Regions from separate parts of the Homo sapiens genome. Here region 1 is linked to region 2. Evidence: fine-mapped expression QTL. A gene starts in region 2. The other region holds a variant in brackets. All regions are shown on one strand. Distances are from middle to middle.

Region 1 (11,872 bases), 380 kb before region 2:
CTAACTGCCAAGGAGAAAAGATGTAGGTCCTGCTCTGATGTCACCTAGCAATGGGTAGAGAGGTGGGAGAGCTTAAGCTCATTGCCACTGAAGCTAAGTCCCTTAGATAAGGCAGGGGGCCAGGATGAGAGTGAGGGAAGACACTGAGAGCAACAGGAGGCAGCCAAAGGACCAGGCAGATGGGGCAGGTCCTTGGTGAAACCCTACCTTCAAGCCAAAACACAGCCTGAAGGCTGAAAGACCAGACTTCTGGTCCTGGATGAAACCCTCAACCCAGAGTGAGAACATCTGTTCCTGTTTGCCCACCCTTTCCCGATTGATTCTTTCTGAATAATGCTTTGTAGCAGTGGAATGTTGCCTTTTCTAATACTACCTACAGCCTGCCCCTCCCCCATTCTAAGCCTATAAAAGACCAGACTCAGCCACAGTGGAGGAACTTTCCTGCCTTTGGATAGGGGGGCCACCCACGTGTCACCTCTCCACTGAAAGCTGTTTCATCACTCAATAAAACTCCCCACCTTGCTCACTCTTCAATTGTCAGTGTATCCTCACTCTTCTTGGGTGCAGGACAAGAACTCGGGAACTGGTACACAAGCCAGACTCAACCACGGTGGGCCGACTGAGCAGGCCATCTCATGCAGCAGGTAGCATGGCCAAGAGAGGCCCAGGTGGGGCATTGCCGGCCAGAGGTCCCCGGCTTGCAAAGTGACCAAGAAAAAATCCTGTGTCAAAACCAATGTATATTTTTTGTGATTGGCCTTCTTGGGATGCAAGGGGCAGTCTGAAAAAACAATCCACAGGGCTGGGGAGCAAATAAGACTTGGATACAAAGCGACAGAGATGCAAAATACTCTTTGAATCATAGCATCTCAGCAAGAATCACAGAATGGTAGATTCTAAGGGTCATAGGATCACAGCCAAGAAAAGGACCTTGACTTATCCAGGGAGATCCCCTTGTTTTGCAGATGTGAAAATGGAGGCTTAGAGAGGGAGGGGCCCTGGTGTTTCAAGGGGAGCCTGCCCTGTCCCACACTCATTCCTGAAGGCTGAGGCTCCTCCTGCTGGAAGACACTCCCTTCTGGAGCATCATGAGGTCACAGGGGATCCCTGGCTAGCCAGCCAGAGCCCAGCTGCCCACACTTGCAGGGGAAACAGCATGTCCATAGCCACAGTGGGAGCAGAACTAGGTCTGCTGCTCCTCAGTGGCCTGGTGGACTTTCATCCCTGGCCACAGCAAGGCTTCCTGGAGCCACAGATTCAGATGGCCTGTGGACTTTCATCCTTGGCCACAGTGAGGCTTCCTGGAGCATGTCCAGCAGTTCCCTATGTACAGACACAAAGCCTCTGGGGGAGATAACACCATCTTCAGCCCAGCAAAGAGGGAGTCCCGATGGTCGTGGAGGGCAATTGCCAGAGGGGCCCATTCTCTGTGATGCATGTGGAGTGATGGGAAGCCCAAGCCTAGAGAGGTTATAGGAAATCCTAACATGGATTCTTCTAGCTGGAGCAGAGTGGCTGCTAAGCCAGGGTACTCAGGGCACCCAGAGGCTCCCACCTTGGAAGACCAGCTGCCAGGAACATGCCACTTCACAAAACGCTATCGGGGGTCTCTGGGCCACATCAGAGGTAGCCAGCCCTTTAATACCTGACACCCCCTCCCCCAGAGAGGGCATTCGCCAGCTGACTCCTACAGAAGAGCACCCCTTTTATTGGGTACCCTTTTTACCTCCCTCCAACCTCATGGCTCAGTGAGGACTTTCTGGATACTAGAATACTGCTTTTGTTATCGGAGAGGTAATGTAACCTGGACTGAGGGATCAGAGAACCAAATAACCCCAGCCACAGAGACCAGTGGGATATGGAACACAGGTTAACCTAGAGAGACCTTTCCAAAGAATTTTCTTACTGGATCTGGTGGGGAAAATGCTCTTGCATCTCCAATCCAGGAACTAGAAGGACATGAATTGTAATAGACTTGAAATTCTCTTCTTTCTGTTATGGAAAAAGCCCACCTGTAGTGGGACAGAATGAGGCTGGAAGAGAGAGAGAGAAAGAGAGAGAGAGACAGCGAGAGAGCTACAGTGGGGCTCCTGGTCCCTGAACCTGGAGCTGCCTGAAACCTTCTGGGTTTTCCTTTGATTCTGTGAACAGGTCAGTAGCTCTCGAGCATTCTATCTGTGACCCATTTCACAGTGCAATCCATAACACACACACACACACACACACACACGTAAGTGTGTGCATCATCACTATATGGACATAATTTCCATGAAACACTACTTATACCCTTATTATGTATGATATACTCTGATATTTTTTACTTTATCTCATTTCATTTTCTTTCTTTCTGTCTGTCTTTTTTTTTTTTTTTGAGATGGTCTGTCTCCCAGGCTGGAGTGCAGTGGCACAATCTCGATCACAGCTCACTGCAGGCTCAACCTCCTGGGCTCAAGTGATCCTCCCACCTCAGCACCCCCCATCCCCCATCCCCTCAACACACACACCAGTCTCTAGGACCATAGGCGCACCACCACACCCGGCTAATTTTTGCATTTTTTTGTGGAGACAAGGTTTCACCATGTTACCCAAACTGGTCTGACTCCTAGGCTCAGGCAATCCTCCAGCCTCAGCCTCCTAAAATGCTGGGATTACAGGCATGAGCCACCATGTCCAACCTCATTTCCCTTTATTATTTCTTGAGACCCACTAAGCTGATTTCATGACACTGTAAATTGTGACTTGCAGTATAAGAACAACCAAGCTGGATAAATGGCTTCCTTGTTTTTGCTTACACTGCTCCAAGATGATGTGTCACTTGCAACCTGCTAACCAAAATGCCAACTAACCTTGCCTCTTGCACAACCTGTACCTCCTGTTCCAGCCCCTGCCCACCTCCACCCCACCCCTGGCCAGGCTACCACAAGGAGAGCAGTTTGCAAACTCACTGATCATTCAGCCACAGAGCAGAGATGTGGACTTCTGTGATGTGTTTTAGTGCAAAGAACTGGAGGTAGACACATTTGGGTTCTACGCCTAACCCTAGTCATGTCAGACACTGTGATCTTGGATGAGGTCCTTGGACCCATGAACATCAGTCTTGGCAGCTATATATTGGGCTTGTGCTCCCTGCTTCATAGAAGGAGCATATGGATAAAATGCGATGATGAGTGAAATATTCCGAGCACGTGCTCCACATGTAACATTCTGCACATGGAAGTTCCCATCCCTCCAACCCAGGATGCCAGACATCTTCATTTTTAATCCAGGGTAGAAAGAAAGAGACATCCCCTCTCTCGCTCTCTCAGATCTCTCATGAAAGATGAATCCTTGGGGCTGGGCGCGGTGACTCATGCCTGTAATCCCAGCACTTTCGGAGGCCGAGGCGGGTGGATCACCTGAGGTCAGAAGTTCAAGACCAGCCTGGTCAACATGGTGAAACCCCGTCTCTACTAAATATACAAAAAAAATAGCCGGGGGTGGTGGTGGGCGCCTGTAATCCCAGCTACTCAGGAGGCTGAGGCAGGAGAATCGCTTGAACCAGGGAGGCGGATGTTGCACTGAGCCGATATCGTGCCATTGCACTCCAGCCTGGGCAACAAGAGTGAAACGTTGTCTCAAAAAAAAAAAAAAAAAAAAAAAGATGAGTCCTGTGTATACAAAAATGGTAATGATGGCCAGAGCACCTGGTGCGTGCATCAACCTTTACCATTGTCAAGATAACTCATTCCGCTGGGCATGATAGCTAACACCTATAATCCCAGAACTTTGGGAGGCCAAGGCGGGTGAATCACCTGAGGTCAGGAGTTCAAGACCAGCCTGGCCAACATGGCAAAACCCCATCTCTACTGAAAATACAAAAATTAGCCAGGCGTATTAGCACATGCCTGTAATCCCAGCTACTTGGAGACTGAGACAGGAGAATTGCTTGAACCTAGGAGGCAGAGGTTGCAGTGAGCCGAGATCGCACCACTGCACTCCAGCCTGGGCGACAGAGCGAGACTGTCTCAAAAAAACAAAACAAAACAAAAAACAAACGAACAAAAACCTTCCTCACAAGAACCCCGGGAAGGAGATGGGATGGAAGTGGGTGAGGGTTAGTTGCTGTACGCCAAGCAACAAGGGTGTGGCCATGCGAGGCCTGGCCCTTTTGGTGGTCCTGGGTTCAAGTTCAGTGCTCCACTCTCCCCTTGTAATGGCTGCTTCCCTGCTTCGCTCTGGCCTGGGCTCCCAGGATCCTGAAACTGCTTCCAGGCAAAGCAATGGAGGCCACGATAGAACTTTTGCTACATTTGGCAAATTGCAGTCTCAGGGCAGCATTTGCTCAAACTCTAGGCAACCTCCGCCTCCTAGGTTCAAACTCTCCCTAAATGCTGTAGCCAGAGAGAAGAAAAGAAATTTCTAGAATCCAAGAATTTCAGGGTCAAAGTGTGCTTCAAGGCCTTTCCCCCATCCCAGGACGGATGGTCCCTGCCTGTGCCAGGGGCCACTGGGCCGAGGCGTGATGAGCTCTCTGGGAGGCAGACAGCCTGAGCCCAGAGTGGGTTGGTTGTGGCTGCAACACAGAAAACCTGCAGCTCCTCAGAGAGGTGCCAAGGCAAACCAGAACCCAGGTGTCCAGGAGCCAGCAATGCCTGCTGGAAGGGTCACAAAGGACCCTCTTTGTGGGCCAGTGGAACCCCAGAGGGCCAGCACAAGCCCCTGCCCCCAGGTGCCATCTCCGAGGCATGCAAATTTCTTTCTTTTTTTTTTTTTTTTTTTTTGAGACAGGGTCTTGCTCTGTCACCCAGACTGGAGTGCAGTGGTGCAATCTCAGCTCACTGCAGCCTCAATGAGAGGCAAACTTTTCAGAAAACATAAAAAGCCCTGATAGAAAATTTGAACTTAAATTGCCTGAACATTCACCCCCAAATGAGAGACTTTACCCAAAGATGTGTGTGTGTGTGTGTGTGTGTGTGTGTTTGTTTGTTTGTTTTTTTGAGACAGAGTCTCGCTCTGTCGCCCAGGCTGGAGTGCAGTGGCACAATCTCGGCTCACTGCAACCTCCACCTCCCAGGTTCAAGCGATTCTCCTGCCTCAGCCTCCCGAGTAGCTGGGATTACAGGTGCCCGCCACCACACATAGCTAATTTTTGTATTTTTAGTAGAGACAGGGTTTCACCATGTTGGTCAGGCTGGCCTCAAACTCCTGACCTCAAGCGATCCACCTGCCTCAGCCTCCCAAAGTGCTGGCATTACAGGCGTGAGCCACCGCGCCCGGTCCGAGAGTGTGTTTTAAATCACAAGAGACTAAGGGGCCTTCAGGCAAGTTTGTTTCTTTTCAGCAGGTCTTGGGTCCCTTGAGGGAAGGGAAGTGGACTCTAGGAAATTAAGCGACTCCCTACTTTTGTTCATCTGAGCTATAGGGTGGATGTTTTCTGTCCCCTTACATAAGCAGCACTTCCTGCATTTGGCTACAGAACATTTTTCTCACATGGCATCTCTTGGGGCGATTGTTTCACAAGAGCCCTGGTGGTAAACACTGCCCCCATCCAATGGCCGGTCTGGCCCCTGAGACTCCCAGGACCGAGCAGTGACCACAACATCTGGGTCCGTTGCCAGGGAAAACAACAGGCAGGCCTGGGATGGCTCAGCGGCCCCAGCCAGG[C/T]AGCCAAGTCCTCCTCAAGGTCAGGCTGTGTTTAGCGTGTTCCCCAAGTGTGGGAGGCCAGGAGCAGGGGTGGGTTGTGGAATCCGGGATGCCACGGTTGGAAAGGCCCCTACAAGACCCAACTCAGCAGCCCTTAACCCCTCATTCCTGCTCGTAGGGCCCAGGGACAGGAGGTGGCCTCTATCACAGCAAAGCCAGGACTGGCTAGGTGGGCCGCACCTTCTGCAAAGCAACAGCCTCCAATGTGGTCTCAGCTAGGGGTGGTGACTGGGGACTTCTGGGCATATAAATACAAACAAACCACATGGCTTCTGATCACAATTTGACACAAATGCTAGAGAGACACAGATCTCAGCCCGTAACCTCACTGTGGGCTCATTCTTGTAGACACAGAGCCTAGGACTGGTTCTTAGCTGTGTAATCACAAACAACCCACAACTTCTAGAAGCCTGGGTTTCCTCTTCCTTAAAGTGGGAGACAGAGTATCACAATCCTATATCTCCAATCCTTGAGGCCAGATGCATGTCAGAGTTCCTGATTTGGGGGATTTTTAGAAAGGTAATGGGGTGCAGGTATCGTGTACTATGTAACCCACGCACCCGCAGCAGCCCTCCTCAGTCAAACATATTAATATTTCTGCAGTGACTGTAAATATTCAAATTAAGCAGGAGACATAAAAACCACAGGTGAATTCATGCCAGATCAGGTCAGGTTTTGCCACTAAATGAATAAATTATCATTTTTTTTTAAGTTTTCATTCTGAGGCCAGGTGCGGTGGCTCACGCCTGTAATCCCAGCACTTTGGGAGGCCTAGATGGATGGATCATTTGAGGTCAGCAGTTTGAGACCAGCCTGGCCAACATGGCAAAACCCCATCTCTACTAAAAATACAAAAATCAGCCGGGCGTGGTGGCAGGTGCCTGTAATCTCAGCTACTAGGGAGGCTGAGACAGGGGAATAGCTTGAACGTAGGAGGCGGAGGTTGCAGTGAGCCGAGATCGTGCCATTGCACTCCAGCCTGGGCAACAGAGCGAGACTTCATCTCAAAAAACAATAATAATAATAATAATAAAATAAAGTTTCCATTTTCAGAGGATTCTGCATTCAGAGTTATTAGCCCTTTAATGCTGTGCACCTCATAGGGTTGTTACCCACATCAGCGTCACGTAAGATGCTGTGGAGGAAAGCAGTTTCAGAACAATCAGTGATGACAGCTACTGTGAATCCACTATTCAACAGGCGCCCCATCGCTTGCTCATGGGCTCCTCACCATAGCTCTAAGCCACAGGAGCTATTTTCATACCCCATATAGGTCCATCCTATAACACAGCCAGGACAGAGACGAGAGACTCAGGCCTCCTGACTTGGATTCTGCTCTTTCACCTCCTTGTTCATCCAATTAGAGAAACTGGCAAAAAGGAAACTGAAAGTGACAGCTGGAGCCCATGATTTCCTGGAAGAGCCCTAGAGCTTTGCTTTTTCTCTCCTGCAGCACTTAACCGAAACCAGTTTTGCAATCAATTCCTGTTCAAAGGCCACCCTACTCTTCCTATCCGTCTTTCTCCAGCCCAGACACTCACAGCCCCCTGCCAGACCAGGGGACCTCGGAGAGGCAAGGACAGAGGTTCAGGATCTTCCTCTCCCTCGGGACCCAAGGCCACAAAGGAGAGCTCCGTGGAGAGAAGGTGAGACGGCGGGCAGAAGTCGGGGGAGGAGGGGGCTGCCGCTCTGGTCCCTGAAGGACAGAGCCCCCAAGGGGTTGGCTTTAGGCACCTGACTCAGGGAAAAGAGCTGCTGTGAAAGCAGCGGGGTTCAAATGCCAGCCAGAGCTTGAGGAGAGTCTGAGGATTAACTTCTCCTGTGTTAATCCTGGTAGGTTTCCCTCCCTTACAGCCATTTCAGGGTTAAATTGAAACATGCTAAAGCATGCGATGTGACTAGCCAAGTTGCATTTGTCCCTCCACTGCTGGGGATCCGAGGGCTTAGGCAGAGGGGACCTGGCCCTTAGAAAGCAGATGATTACATCAGCCACAGGCGTTTCCCTAGAAATTCAGTAGAGGAGTGGTTTAGGGGTGTCATCTCACAAGAAAAAAGGTGCTGGGTGAGTTGTCTAGAAACTGCAAAGCCAACCTACAGAGTTTTCTAGATTGTAGATTTATGTGAAGTTGTTTGGGGAAGAGGGTGAGGGAGTTTGTGATAAATATTAGGGCGACTAGGCCAGGCGCAGTGGCTCATGCCTGTAATCCCAGCATTTTGGGAGGCTAAGGCAAGCGGATTGCTTGAGCCCAAGAGTTTGAGACCAGCATGGGCAACATAGTGAGACCCCGTCTCTACAAAAAATCAAAAAATAGCTGGGCGTGATGGTGCACACCTGTAGTCCCAGCTACTTGGGAGGGTGCTGAGGTGGAAGGATCACTTGAACCCAGGAAGTCAAGAATGCAGTGAGCAGTGATCGCACCACTGCACTCCAGCCTGGGCAACAGAGTGAGACCCGGTCTCAAAAAAAAAAAAAAAAATCTAGGGAGGTTATCTTGAAGCTGTGTTTTCAAAGTAAGCAGATTTTTCTTACTTAGATTGTGTATCTGCAGAAGTTGGTTTTGTGGGGGAAGGCAGGTAAGGAAAGACTGTCATAAATATCCTGTAAGCTTTCAAATGAAAGTAAGTTCTCAAATCCTCTTCCAATAAACCTCTCACAAGCAAATCCTCTCGCAACCACCAAGAGCAGGTCAGAGGGGATGGAATGGGACCTGCTTAGATGAGTTTCCTGCTGTTACCTTTGCCCTGCATCCCATAGGACTAATGTAAAAAAATGAGAGAGGTATTGGCGGACGCTGGTAAAAAATGGGGTTCCAGACCAGAGTCTCTTACCCCCAGCAACCTTGTCATGTTCAACCAGGTGATCCCTGGTTGTGGGGGCTGTCCTCTGCATCGTAGGGTGCTTGGCAGCATCCCTGGCCTCTGCCCTCTACATACCAACAGCAGTACCCTCTCCAGCTGAGACCATCAAAAATGTTTCCAGATATTAGCAGTGTCCCTGAGGAGCAAACACGCCCTGTTTGGGACCAACTACTCCAGACTCTGCGTGGCTGGAATTGCACAGGCTTTCCTGCTTACTGTGTGACACTGGCCTCCCTATGTCTCAGTTTGCACCTCTGTAAAATGGGCATCATCTTAGCACCGATCTCACTGGGTCACTGTGTAAAGCAGGTAGATGTATGTCTGGTGAAAGTAAACTCTTAAAGGTGCCAAGCCCCCTAAACCAAACCTAGCTTCACATACCAAAGAGGGGAGAAGGTTTTTATCTTTGAAGCATTCATTCTTTTTCATAGACTACCCCAAAGAAATAACCAAACATGTAGACAGACGTCTATATAAGGATTTTAACCAAAAATTATAAATACAAAATTTTAAAATAACTGAAAACAACCCAAAGGTTCAACAGTGAGAGAGTTATTGAATGTGTAATGATACATTCGTAAAATGAAATGCGACATGGCTTCTATGTATCGCCTGGGGAACTACTAAGATACAATGTTAGGTGACAAGAATTCACACAAACTACATGAACAGCATGCATTTCCATATGGTGAGCGTAAGGTGGATTTTATAATTTATTTCTAAATTTTCAACCTTAAACTTGTATTCATGGCTATAAGTGAATGAATGAATGAATGGCTATAAATGAATGGCTATAAAAATTTGTGTCCTGGGCTGGGCATGGTGGCTCATGCCTGTAATCCCAGCACTTTGGGAGCCCGAGGTGGGTGGATCACCTGAGGTCAGGAGTTCAAGACCAGCCTGGCCAACCTTGTGAAACCCCATCTCTACTAAAAATACAAAAATTAGCCGGGTGTGTTAGTACGTGCCTGTAATCCCAGCTACTTGGTAGGCTGAAGCAGGAGAATCGCTTGAATCTGGGAGGTGGAGGTTGCAGTGAGCCAAGATCATGCCATTGTACTCCAGCCCGGGCAACAAGAGCAAAATTCAGTCTCAAAAAAAAAAAAAAATTTTTTTAAAAATAAAGAATTTGTGTCCCTTCAGAGTGTGTGAGGGAGGATGTTTTTTTCTAACTTTTTAGAAGTGGAAGGGAAGAGGATGAGAGAAGGGAGGATGAGCTGAGGGAGAAGCTATATCTAGGAAACAGCATTTCTGCCGTAAGCGCTGGACCAAGTACCAAATGTAGAGAAGAGATGCAAAGGAATGTATTGGCTTCCCTAGGGCTGCTGTCAGAAAGCACCACAAACCAGGTGGCTTCAAACAACAGACATTTAGTGTCTCACAGTTCTGGAGGCTGGAAGTCAAAAATCCCAGTGCCAGTAGGGCGCACTTCTGCTGCAGGCTCCAGGGAGACCATCTGTGCCTTTTGCAGCCTCGGTGGCTTCTGACAGCACGACTCTAATTTCTGCCTCTGTCTGCGTGCAGCCTTCTTTGCTGTGTCTCTCTCTGTCACCTCCTCTTCTTATAATGACATCAGTGATGGATTTCAGGGCCACCCTGAATCCAGGATAATTTCACCCGGAGAAATGTATACATGTGCCATGTTGGTGTGCTGCACCCATTAACTCATCATTTAACATTAGGTATAACTCCTAATGCTATCCCTCCCCACTCCCCCCACCCCACAACAGGCCCCGGTGTGTGACGTTCCCCTTCCTGTGTCCATGTGTTCTCATTGTTCAATTCCCACCTAGGAGTGAGAACATGCGGTGTTTGGTTTTTTGTCCTTGCGATAGTTTGCTGAGAATGATGGTTTCCAGCTTCATCCATGTCCCTACAAAGGACACGAACTCATCCTTTTTTATGGCTGCATAGTATTCCATGGTGTATATGTGCCACATTTTCTTAATCCAGTCTAGCATTGTTGGACATTTGGCTTGGTTCCAAGTCTTTGCTATTGTGAATAGTGCCGCAATAAACATATGTGTGCATGTGTTTTTATAGAAGCATGTTTTATAATCCTTTGAGTATATACCCAGTAATGGGATGGCTGGGTCAAATGGTATTTCTAGTTCTAGATCCCTGAGGAATCGCCACACTGACTTCCACAATGGTTGAGCTAGTTTACAGTCCAACCAACAGTGTAAAAGTGTTCCTATTTCTCCACATCCTCTCCAGCACCTGTTGTTTGCTGACTTTTTAATGATCGCCATTCTAACTGGTGTGAGATGGTATCTCATTGTGGTTTTGATTTGCATTTCTCTGATGGCCAGTGATGATGAGCATTTTTTCATGTGTCTTTTGGCTGCATAAATGTCTTGTTTTGAGAAGTGTCTGTTCATATCCTTCGCCCACTTTTTGATGGAGTTGTTTGTTTTTTTCTTGTAAATTTGTTTGAGTTCATGTAGATTCTGGATATTAGCCCTTTGTCAGATGAGTAGATTGCAAAAATTTTCTCCCATTCTGTAGGTTGCCTGTTCGCTCTGATGGTAGTTTCTTTTGCTGTGCAGAAACTCTTTAGTTTAATGAGATCCCTTTGTCAATTTTGGCTTTTGTTGCCGTTGCTTTTGGTGTTTTAGACATGAAGTCCTTGCCCATGCCTATGTCCTGAATGATATTGCCTAGGTTTTCTTCTAGGGTTTTTATGGTTTTAGGTCTAACATTTAAGTCTTTAATCCATCTTGAATTAATTTTTGTATAAGGTGTAAGGAAGGGATCCAGTTTCAGCTTTCTGCGTGTGGCTAGCCAGTTTTCCCAGCACCATTTATTAAACAGGGAATCATTTCCCCATTTCTTGTTTTTGTCAGGTTTGTCAAAGATCAGATAGTTGTAGATATGCGGCATTATTTCTGAGGGCTCTGTTCTGTTCCATTGGTCTATATCTCTGTTTTGGTACCAGTACCATGCTGTTTTGGTTACTGTAGCCTTGTAGTATAGTTTGAAGTCAGGTAGCGTGATGTCTCCAGCTTTGTTCTTTTGGCTTAGGATTGACTTGGCAATGTGGGCTCTTTTTTGGTTCCATATGAACTTTAAAGTAGTTTTTTCCAATTCTGTGAAGAAAGTCATTGGTAGCTTGATGGGGATGGCATTGAATCTATAAATTACCTTGGGCAGTATGGCCATTTTCATGATATTGATTCTTCCTACCCATGAGCATGGAATGTTCTTCCATTTGTTTGTATCCTCTTTTGTTTCATTGAGCAGTGGTTTGTAGTTCTCCTTGAAGAAGTCCTTCACATCCCTTGTAAGTTGGATTCCTAGGTATTTTATTCTCTTTGAAGCAATTGTGAAT
Region 2 (11,872 bases):
AAAAAGCAACAAGTTTTACATGACTGTTCCTCAGTTTCTCCATCTACAATATTTACCACTCTGGTAGTGTTACAGGCTTAATGTCTGTGTCCCTCTAAATTTCGTATGTTGAAGCCCTAACCCCAGTGTAATGGTATTTGGAGGTAGGACCTCTAGAATTAGCTTCAGATTGGGTCATGAGGGTGGGAACTACATGATAAATGAGTGCCCTTATAAGAAGAGGAAGAGACCACTGACTCTCTCTCCCCCAGGGCACAGACAAAGGAAAGGCCATGTGAACACACAGCAAGAAGACAGCTATCCACAAGCCAGAAGGTGGGCCCTCACCAGACATGAAATCTGCTGGCACCTTCATCTTGGACTTCCCAGCCTCCAAAACTGTGAGAAATAAATGTCTGTTGTTTAAGCCACCCAGTCTATGGTATTTTGCTGTGGCAGCCCAAGGACACTGGGACAGGGAGAGATGAAAAATTCAGTAATTTCAGTGAAATATTGTTCATGAAATTACTTGCAAGAAAAAAAAAACACAATATTTTTATAACTCTTCTTGAATGGTAGCACCATGCTTAGTTTCAGCACCAAATACCAAATGAGGGCACAAAGAGACATCCACCTATGAGGAAATAAGCCCATAAATAAGCAAATGGGAAGATAAACTACTTCAATAAACACAGCATCTACAAAGCAACTTCAGGCTATCTGGAACCCCTTCCCTGAAACCTGAAAGAAAGTCATCTTACTACTAGAATCAGCTGCTAATAGGAATAACTGCTGAACCCACTTGGCTAAACTGGATTTATGACTCTATGGTGAGAAGCGGTTACTTGGCCATATAATAATTATACCATATCAACATTTCACTGACACAAAGAATTCTGCTGAAAGCTATAAGTAATAAGGTACATCTTACCTTATACAGCAGCTAAACTCTTAGAAAACTGCACAAAAATAAAATTTTTATGAATCAAATTGTTCACTAGAAAAGCTGACCAAAAGAATTCATTCCCCACTACATTGTATAGAGCGTAAATTTCATACATATTAAACTTAAAGTGAAATGAACCTCTAATAGCCCTATATTTAACTCATTTAACTTCCCACAAACTTTGAGTACAGTATTTCCAAGTACTCTCTTTAACTACATTTCTCAAACTGTACATCAGCTTTCCAGTTGAGTTTGTCACTTCCCTCCTACTCTCTGGTTCACGTTTCTCTATTTCTGTACTCTTTCCAGGGCTGCACTGACTCCTCTTCCACCTACATCAAGTTTCTGTATACTGCCTTTGAAAGCACCGACCCTTCCTCTCTTTCTCCTAGGGTTCCTTCTGAGCCTAAGGATTATAACAAAAGCATCACAGACTCTCTGGCGTTTCCTAAACTCCATTTTGGTAAGTGATGATTTACTCCAAAAGCTTAGTGGTACAACTTAACAAGATTCAACTTTGGAATCTAACGCTTAGCACTACAGCTCCATTTAGTAAGCAGCCTTGGGAATGACCCCAGTAAATGAACTTATTCTATAAAAAGCGGTTAATCCTTTGACATTCAAAGTGCCTGGAAAATTCTGTGATGATACCCTCACTCTGGAATTTCACAATTTTTCTTAATCCTTAACTATCTGTAAAAGGTAAATTTCAATTTCAATTTAACAGGCATTGAGCACTTACCAAGTACCCAAAACTGTTAGGTATTACGAAGGATAAATACAAAGGAAATATAGTTCCTATCTTTTAGAAGCTTACAATCTTAGCAGTGAAACAAGAATAATAAAACAATTAAGGGACAATAAAAGATGACACACAATTAAGCATCAATATACCAAGAGGCAAGAGTAGGATCGGAATGGTGTGAACTAAGCTGTCAGGGAAGGCTTCACAAAAGGAGTTAGAAAACGTGTTAAGAAAACAGGCCAGGTGCAGTGGCTCATGCCTGTAATCTCAGCACTTTGGGAGGCCAACGCAGGCGATCACCTGAGGTCAGGAGTTCGAGACCAGCCTGGCCAACATGGTGAAACCTCATCTCTACTATAAATACAAAAATTAGCGGGGTGTGGTGGCACATGCCTGTAATCCCAGCTACTCAGGAGGCTGAGGCATAAGAATTGCTTGAACCCAGGAGGCAGAGGTTGCAGTGAGCTGAGATCAAGCCACTGCACTCCAGCCTGGGCAACAGTGAGACTCCATCTCAAAAAAAAAGAAAAAAAAGACGTGTACTTTAAGACAAACCCACATACCCAAAACACTGGCTACGATAAGATTTTTTTTATTTTTTTGAGACAGATTTTCGCTCTTGTTGCCCAGCCTGGAGTGCAATGGCGCAACCTCAGCTAACTGCAACCTCCGCCTCCCGAGTTCAAGTGATTCTCCTGCCTCAGCCTCCCTAGTAGCTGGGATTACAGGCGCCTGCCACCACGCCTGGCTAATTTTTTGTATTTTTAGTAGAGACGGGTTTCACTATGTTGGCCAGGCTGGTCTCGAACTCCTGATCTCAGGCGATCCACCCGCCTCAGTCTCCCAAAGTGCTGGGATTACAGGCGTGAGCCACTGCGCCCGGCTAAGATTTTTAAAGTGTGTATTTACATAGGGCCTATAGATATTTCTAAACCACTGATACCATCTCCTAAGACTACCTGCCCTTGCTCTCTCTGCTCCAGCTATTAATACATTGGTCTCCTGTTTCCAAACAAACCAAGCAGTCTTTCTCAATGCCTGTGCACCCTCACCTCCTCTACCTGAACCCTCTTTCCGAAAGCATCTGAATGGCCCATTACCTCACTTCACTCATAGGCCATCTATCTTAAAGCCCTTCCGTAACCATCTTCATTCTCTCCCTTTCCATCTCTCCCTTTCCCTGCTTTTTCTTTTTAGCCCTTATCACCACACAATTATAGTTGTTGATTTATTAGATGTCTCTTTCCATTCAATATTAGTTCCATGACAGCAAGGGTTTTTTGTTGTTGTTGTTCACTATTATATCTCTTAGGGTTAAAACAGTGCCTGGGATGTAGCAGCTGCTTAATAAATGTTAGTTCAATGAATAAACATTAAGTATATTCATGTAATACTCTCACACTTCTTTAAAAATGCACGCTTCTTTAAAAAAAACTTTTCGCCCATTTGTCTCCCCACATAGATTGCATGCACCTTAAGGACAGTGAACTGGACTTATAACTTTTAGAAGGTAACTTAGAACTTGGCCGGGTGCGGTGCCTCACACCTGTAATCCCAGCACTTTGGGAGGCCGAGGTGGGTGGATTACAAGGGAAATCATCTTGTACACATACTTTATTTTACAACTAAGGAAAACAGAGGCCCCAAAATGAAAGATTTCTGCAGAACCATTCAGCTAGTTGAAGGCAGGGCCTAAATCAATGATTTGAATACCTGTATGACATAGGGGAATGGACCTACAACAATGGGAATGTATAGAAGGCCGGGTGTGGTGGCTCACACCTGTAATCCCAACATTTTGGGAGGCTGAGGTGGGTGAATCACCTGAGGTCAGGAGTTCGAGACCAGCCTGGCCAACCTGGTGAAACCCCCTCTCTACTAAAAATAAGAAAAATTAGCTGGGCATGGTGGCAGACGCCTGTAATCCCATCTACTCAGGAAGCTGAGGCAGGAGAATCCCTTGAACCCAGAGGTGGAGGTGGAGGTGGAGGTTGCAGTGAGCCGAGATCGTGCCATTGCACTCCAGCCTGGGCAAAAAAAAAAAAAAGAGAATGTATAGAAAGAAAATAAAATACAAGAAGTGAAAAAAGGATTCTCGGAGGGATAACTCTCAGCTGCCAATTTGTACCCCCAAGGACCTAACCACTCTTTCCTCTGCACACCCCTGCGAAGTCCCTACACACTGCTCCATTTCCAAATATCACTATCTTTAGCCAGTTTGAAGGCAACCAACAGATAATAGGCCCCAGGAGTAAATGAGGGAAAGGGACGGGGGTCTCACTATTAACTAGGATTGACAGAAATGATAAATGAATACATACACACACACACACACACACACACACACACACCAAGTAGAACCTGCTCACCAGCACCTACATCCAGTCTTCCCTCCTTATCATCCAATATTAGCTCACCTCACCTGAAGTCTCCCACATTCCTGTCTTTTTTGCCATGGCCCTGAGCTTTTACTTCTCACAATCCCTCTGCCTGACAGAGTTCTAATGGAAAATAAAAGCAGGCAAACAAAACAAAAGAATTCAAAAATAAACACCAAGAGGGTCACTTTACCTAAATCAACAGAAGTAACAGGGTAAACTCTGCAAAGGAGACCAAGAAGCATACAACAAACATGCTAGGCTTAAGTACAGCTCTGTCCCTAACACAGGAAGTCAGGCAGAGGCTTGAAAAGCAGGGAGCAGAGCACAGGAAGTCTTTTAGCACTGCAGAGATTTCCAAGAGTGGTGTAATGGAGACAGCACAGGAATAGGAATTAGAAGACCAGGCTTCTAGTTCTAGTTTTACTATTAGCTAACTGGGTGGCCTTACCCAAGTCACCATCTTCTCTGGACTTCTGATTCCCCATCTATAAAATAAGGTGGTTAAAACAAGCTGGGACTTGAATCTCCTCCAAAAAAAACAAAGATGAAAACTATTGACTCTCCTCCACCAAAAAGTGCACATCACCTACTATGAGTAAGAATCTTCCAAGTCTTCCCAGGTTAAGAACCCCTGGAAAAGATGATGTCTAGTCCTCCTAGCATCCCTCTAACATCCTATGACTCCGAGAGAATTAGGCACAAGTCTGCACAACTGTTGGTAGGTGAGACTCATCATGTCATAGCAGTATTTTCTGGGCAAAGACCAAATCGTAAAACCTCCAAAGGTTTCAAGGTCTTCTTCAAAACTATGAAGTCAGCTGACATCAATACCTTTCCCATTCCCTACCCAAATTAACCACGTTTATCTTTCAATCCAGAATTGAGAATCCAGTCTTCTAATAGCCCTATAAAAAAATTTTTTTTATAGCCCGGGACATTAAAGAGCTATTTTGTGTCCTGGTGATGTAGAATGCAATTGGCAAAGAACAGGAGGGACATGTCTAGTGTCTCCCTTCAGACTCATTAGTATGCTCCACAAAGTAAATGAGACTGAGCACCACCGTGTCCCCATAACATTACCAAACTCCTTGTACTTCTCACACTCTGTGTGATTTAACCCACAATCTCAGCCACATCCCCTCGGGGCTCTCTCGAGGAGTTTTCTTTTCACTCCTCTCATTGAAATGCCACTTCTCTTCCCCATCCCAGCGTGTGCCCAGGGCTGCCAAAAGGTACTCCCTCTTCTCGGGAGGTTTCCCACCAGATCTCCTTTTCCTCGACTCAGTCCAGAGAAGCCAGGATTTCCCGGCTTCCACTCCACCCCAAGGCACTAAGGAAGGATTTGAAAAAATGGAATCCATCTCAACCTTGTTCGATTTCCCCCCAAAACCTATCCACTCGTCGTGCCTCCTGGCCCCTCAGGAATCAGGACCCTCTCGGGCACACCAGGTTCAGTCCTGCAACCTTCGTTCCTAGCCCGAGCTCGCCCCACCTTCCAACCAGGCCCCGAATGGCCCCCCATCCCACCTCCAACCCAGGACTCCCGGAGGCCCTCCCTCTCTCCAAGCCGGGGAGCCCGGTGTCGACCCTCACGCCCACCCCCGCAATAACTGGGCGCCCCGTCCCGCGCGGTCACCTGCATCCCGCCGCCACCGTCGGCCGCCGCCTCCTCAGTGCGCGGCCGCTTGCTCAGGCCGGGATCGGCTCCGTCTCCTCCCGCTCCGGGCACCGGCAGCTCCAGCTCCGACTCCCGCTTCATGCCCCGGGCGGCGGCGCCGGGCCCGAGCTGAGGCGGCTGATGCGGCTGGGCGCCCTCCGCCATCCGCCCGCGCCCCCCTCGCCTCCGGGAGCCGGGCGACCCGCGACAGGCCACCTCCCCCTGGGCCTCGGCCCCGACTGTCGCGACAGGCGGGCGCGCGCCTGCCCCCGCCCCCGCGTGCGTGCGTGCGTGCGCGCGAGCGGACTCCGCGCCCCTCCGCGCCTCGCGGCCGCCGCTCCTTGCCTGACCGCTTGCTCCCCGCCCGCCCGCCCGCCGGGTTGTCGGCGCGGGGCCACTGGCGGGTCGTGATGAGCACTCGCTCGCGCCCCCGCACGCACACGCGAAACCCGGCCCGGCCCGCCGCGCCGCCCCGCCTCTCGCACTCCCGGAGCTCGCCCACCGGCCGCGCTGGCTCACACTCTCCCTCACAGCACGCCGGCCGAGGGAGGAAGGGGGCGGTCCGGGCTCCCGAGGCGTGGGGAGGGCTGTTTATTTTGGGGGGAGGAGGGGCGCGAGGCAGGAACGAGCTGACTGGCCGGGATCCTCCGACCCGCCACTGTGGCAGCACCGGGAAGGCGGGGAGAGAGAAAGAGGGAGGGAGGGAGGGACCGGGATGTAGAACTCCAGCCCGCGCGGGAGGCTACGGCGAGGGGGGCGGTGGCGGCCCGCGGGGGGGGCGGGGCCAGGCCCCCTCGGCAATCTCCGTAGTCTCCTCGCTGGCTGCCCGAGGGAGGCCGGGAAGCGATCGGGGAAGCTCGGGAATCTCCGGCACGGGCCTGGGATTGTCCTGGAGGCACAGCGCGGCTGGAGTGCGGGGCAGCGCGGGGGGGGCGGGGTCTGTCTCCTTTCTGGGCGGGGCCGTATCCTGGAGCAGGCGGGGCTTGAGAGACCCGAAGGCCAGGGAGTGGCTCCTGCTTGCGGTACTAGTTGTACAGAGTTAAGTCCTGAGTTTACTCGCCTGAGCACCTTGGTTCCCGGAGAGGGAATGGGCACTCTGTGAGAGGCAGGCTATTTGCCTGCTTCCCCTCCCGCAGAAGAAAAAATGTCTCAAATTGGAAGGTCGAGGAATGAAGCCACCCCTCTATGGTTCACCCCAGTTCTGAGAGCTTTTACTCTAATATAACTCACATTCCTAATGAAGTTAGTAATAATACCCGATGTTTGTAAGAGCTTTAGAGTTTGCACAATGCATCCACAGACCCGTTTCAAACTGGTGATATAAGTAGATACCATGATCTCCATTTCATTGATGATGAAACTGAACCTTAGTTAAATCCTGCAGCAAAAAAGTGGCAGATCCGGAATTCAGAACACGAGAACATATTCTCTTTCTTCGTACCTTGCTGCCTGAGGAGCACTTTATGACTTACCAACTTCGTGGAGATAGAGATATCTGTGCAATAGATTCTCTCCCCTACCAGACTGTGAGGACAAGGACTGCAGTGACTTCCTCTGAGTTCCATATCGTGCCCTGTACGTTATAGAAATAAAAGGATATTGCGTGAATAACCTGGATTCTAATCTTGGCTTTGCTAACTAGCTTAAACAAGTTACTTCATCTCTTTGGACCTCAGCTCCATCATTTGTAAAATGAGATGGTTTGGATCAGTGGCTTTCAACCAAGGAGAAATTTTGCCATTCCACCACCTCCACTCCCACATTTGTCAGTGACTGAAGGCATTTTTTTTTTTTTTTTTTTTTTTTTTTTTGAGACAGAGTCTCGCTCTGTCGCCCAGGCTTAAGTGCAGTGGCGCGATCTCGGCTGACTGCAACCTCTGCCTCCTGGGTTCAAGCGATTCTCCTGCCTCAGCCTCCCCAGTAGCTGGGACTACAGGTGTGCGCCACCAACTAATTTTTGTATTTTTAGTAGAGATGGGGTTTCACCATGTTGGCCAGGCTGGTCTCGAACTCCTGACTTCAGGTGATCCGCCTGCCTCGGCCTCCCAAAGTGCTGAGATTACAGGAGTTAGCTGCCGCGCCTGGCCGACTGAAGGCATTTTTGATTGTTACAGTGGGGAGGTGCTGCTGGCATCTAGTGTGTAGAAGCCAGGAATGTTGCTTGACATCCTATCATGCACAGGACGGTCCCCCCAGGAGAGTTATCCAACCCCAAATGTCAATAGTGCGGAGGTTGAGAAACGCTGGGTTAGATGATTTCCAAGGTCATTTCCAACCAGTGTGTGATTTGGCCTTTGAACCTGGGTTTAACCTGGCTGGGGCTGGAACAGTACAACAGTAAAGATCCCTGCTTCAGAGTCAGACCAACCCAGATGAGAACGCAGGCTTCCCACCTCCTGCCCACGTAATCTGGGACCAGTGGTGACTAAGAACTTCCATATAAAAGGTGTTTGGGGATTGCAGACTGGTTGGAAGGGAAGTCGGGAGGACTTGCCTTGAAGGTGAGTTGTTGTATTGAGCATATTGTTTGTATTACTTAGGCTGTGTTATAAATCAGTAAAAATAGCAGAGTTTTAGCTCTGCCACCTGCAAGTCATGATGCCTTGTGACAGCTACTTACCCCCTCTGTGTCTCAGTTTCTTCATCTGCAAATTAGGATAACAATAATACCTTCCTGAAAAGATTATTGTAAGAATTTAATGTTATCACGTTTAGAACTTTGAACGGAATGATTTAGGATAAGCGCTCCATAAGTGTTACAGCTAACACTTATAGCTAACTAATAATAGCTTATTAGTAGTACCATTATCACTTTATTCACTTTTTTTTTTTCAGATGGAGTCTCGCTCTGTCACCCAGACTGGAGTGCAGTGGTGTGATCTCGGCTCACTGCAACCTCCACCTCCTGGGTTCAAGCAATTCTTGTGCCTCAACTTCCCAAGGAGCTGTGATTACAGGCGCCCACCACCACGCCCGGCTAATTTTTTGTATTTTTAGTAGAGACAGGGTTTCACCATGTTGGCCAGGCTGGTCTCGAACTCCTGACCTCAAGTGATTCCCCCCCTTTGGCCTCCCGAAGTACTGGGATTACAGGCATGAACCACCAGGCCTGACCTTTATTCACATTTTAAATGAGAGTGAAAAAACATTCATTGTCAAGATCAAAGAATATCATTATCATTATTATTGGGTTTTTTTTAATTATGTAAGGTGACTTGAGTGGGGCTGCTAGAGATTCACATGCGGCAAGCAAAGCACCCCAGTAACCCCTTGGTGCAACCACTATGCTGGGCAAATTACTTTGTTTCACTAAGCCTTCCATTCCTCATTTGTAGGATAACAATAATAGTCACAGTGTTGTTCTAAGGATTAAATGGGACAAAAGTAAACACTTAGCACAGTGCCTAACATAGTAACTGCTTAATAGGTGGTAATTATTCATCAACTAATTTGGTTAGTGATACAGTAAGCTTAACCAGGGGCCTTGGAAAGAGAAGCCTTAAACAACTTCTTCTTCTTCTTCTTCTTTCTTCTTTCTTCTTTCTTCTTTCTTCTTTCTTCTTTCTTCTTCTTTCTTCTTCTTCTTCTTCTTTTTTTTGAGACAGGATCTCACTGTCTCCCAGGCTGGAGTGCAGTGGCCCAATCTCAGCTCACTGCAACCCCCGCCTCCCAGATTCAAGCGATTCTCCTGCCTCAGCCTGCCAAGTAGCTGGGATTAGAGTCACGCACCACCATGCCCAGCTAACTTTGTGTATTTTTAGCAGAGACAGGGTTTCACCATGTTGGTCAGGCTGGTCTCAAACTCTTGGCCTCAACTGATCCTCCCGCCTCAGCCTCCCAAAGTGCTGGGATTACAGGCGTGAGCCACCACGCCCAGCCCTGACACATCTCTTAGTATTATTATTTGGACCACCAAGGTGGAAGTCCAAGTGCCTACAAGCTTGTTCTTGTGCTGAATTAGCCCCAACCTAAGTCAGCGGTTTCCACTTGGCAGTACCCCACAACCTGATCCTGTTCAACCAAGCAGTATGGCTTTGAGGGATAACCAGGATATTTCCTGGTGGCCTATGAAACAACAGCGGGTTTTGTCTTTTTTTTTTTTTTCTTTAACCTAGGGACATCAGCAGTTGGTCTTCTGAAATTTTTACTTATTGAACTGGTAGCATAAGAATTCTCCCTTCCCAACTGGGCATGGTGGCTCACACCTGTAATCCCAGCACTTTAGGAGGCCGAAGCGGGCAGATCACTTGAGGTCAGGAGTTCAAGACCAGACTGGGCAAAATGGTGAAACCCCATTTCTACTAAAAATACAAAAAATTTAGCCAGGTGTGGTGACAGCTGCCTGTAATCCCAGCTACTCAAGAGGCTGAGCCAGTAGAATTGCTTGAATCTGGAAGGCAGAGGTTGCAGTGAGCCGATATCGCGCCACTGCATTCCAGCCTGGGCTACAGAGTGAGACTCTCTCTCCAAAAAAAGAGAATTCTCCCTTCCCTGCTTGCCTTGCCAAACTACTGAAATCTTAATGATGTTAGATCTTCCTGGGCTGTCCCCTGACCCAGCAAGAAATGAGATTTGAGATCGGGGCTGCCAGTGACTCAAATTTTTGTTATTCAGGTAACGCTCAAGTCCCTTAGAAACAGAGCAATGCAGTATAGAAATGTCTGAATGACCAGGCAGAACAAAGAAAAATTGGACCCTGCCCTGGAAACAAGCATTATGTATTTAAGGAGAAAGAGGAGAGTTAAACGCCTACAAATCATAGAAGAGGCAAAATGCATCCATGGCAGCACAAAGACCAGATCATTTCTTTTCTTTTTTTTTTCTTTTTTTTTTTTTTTTGAGACAGAGTCTTGCTCCGTTGCGCAGGCTGGAGTGCAGTGGTGCAATCTTGGCTGACTGCAAGCTCCGCCTCTCGGGTTCACGCCGTTCTCCTGCCTCAGCCTCCCGAGTAGCTGGGACTACAGGCGTCTACCACCACACCCGGCTAATTTTTTGTATTTTTAGTAGAGACAGGGTTTCACCATGTTAGCCAGGATGGTCTTGATCTCCTGACCTCATGATCCGCCCGCCTCGGCCTCCCCAAATGCTGGGATTACAGGCGTGAGCCACCGTGCCCGGCCGATCATTTCTTTTATATACATCTGCAGCCATTTGTTTAGAAGCAGGTAGTTAGGAAACATTACAGAGGAAGAGGACATTAAATATTTTCGGTCACTGGCTCATGCCTGTAATCCCAGCACTTTGGGAGGCCGAGGCAGGCAGATCACCTGAGCTCAGGAGTTCGAGACCAGCCTGGCCAACATGGCAAAACCCCGTCTCTACTAAAAAATACAAAAATTAGCTGGGTGTGGTGCCGTGCACTTGTAATCCCAGTTACTCAGGAGGCTGAGGCAGGAGAATAGCTTGAACTCAGGAGGACAGAGGTTGCAGTGAGCTGAGATCATGCCACTGTACTCCAGACTGGGTGACAGAGTGAGACTCTGTCTAAAAAATAAATAAATAAAAATATTTTCCTAGAAAGAATTTTTAGCTGCAGAAACTGTTGCAGTTCTAACATTTATTCACTTATTCATTCAACAAATTATGGGCAAGTGTCTGGAATACCAAGATGACAAAAAAAAAATTATTCTTAGTCCCAAAGAGCTCACAATCTAGGGAGGAAGAGATGAACAAATCCAAAGACAATTGCAATGCATTATGATAAGGGAGTCATCTCTCACAGTGGCCAAGAACATAGACTCTGATGTCAAACTGACATGGGTCTGAGTCTGACTTTGCCATATATCTTACCTTGGACAAGACCTTAGCATCTCTGAGGCCTGGTTTCTTCATTTATGTGACAGGCACTGGTAGTTACCAACCCAATATCCATTCTCCTCTTACTCCATCCTAGCAGAACCCCAATTTTGTTCAGGACAGAAATCTGCTTAGCAATTAAAAAAAAAAAAAAATTCTCTGGTTCCCTGAAAGCTAAGGGTGGCCACGTAACACCATCCTAGCCAGCGAGATGTGGGTGGAAGATAGCATTCCTTCCTAGTTAATAAGACAAAACCGCTGGGCATGGTGGGTCACGCCTGTAATCCCAGCACTTTGGGAGGCTGAGGCGGGTGGATTACCAGAGGTCAGGAGTTCGAGACCAGCCTGACCATGGTGAAACCCTGTCT

Which allele goes with the higher level. Alleles are on the strand shown, and positions count from the first base shown. SD is a standard deviation of normalised expression in the study named.
For the expression in subcutaneous fat of the gene that starts at base 6,272 in region 2, T is the low allele of the variant in region 1 and C is the other (small effect, 0.13 SD a copy in GTEx).

Evidence for each region. PIP is the estimated chance that this variant, and not a neighbour inherited with it, causes the effect.
Region 1: its variant is fine-mapped to the expression of RBFOX2 in subcutaneous fat (GTEx, PIP above 0.99). The same link has a PIP of 0.9 or more in tibial nerve.

The regions. Positions count from the first base shown.
Region 1 is chr22:35,641,296-35,653,167 of GRCh38, forward strand. It overlaps APOL6 (apolipoprotein L6), which reads left to right and starts at 7,151. Exons shown (of 3, transcript NM_030641.4): 1 at 7,151-7,328. RefSeq lists an enhancer at 6,856-7,155. The variant C/T (reference allele first, on the strand shown) is at 5,644.
Region 2 is chr22:36,022,553-36,034,424 of GRCh38, forward strand. It overlaps RBFOX2 (RNA binding fox-1 homolog 2), which reads right to left and starts at 6,272. Exons shown (of 14, transcript NM_001349999.2): 1 at 5,688-6,272. The coding sequence starts at 5,873. RefSeq lists a silencer at 6,438-6,507.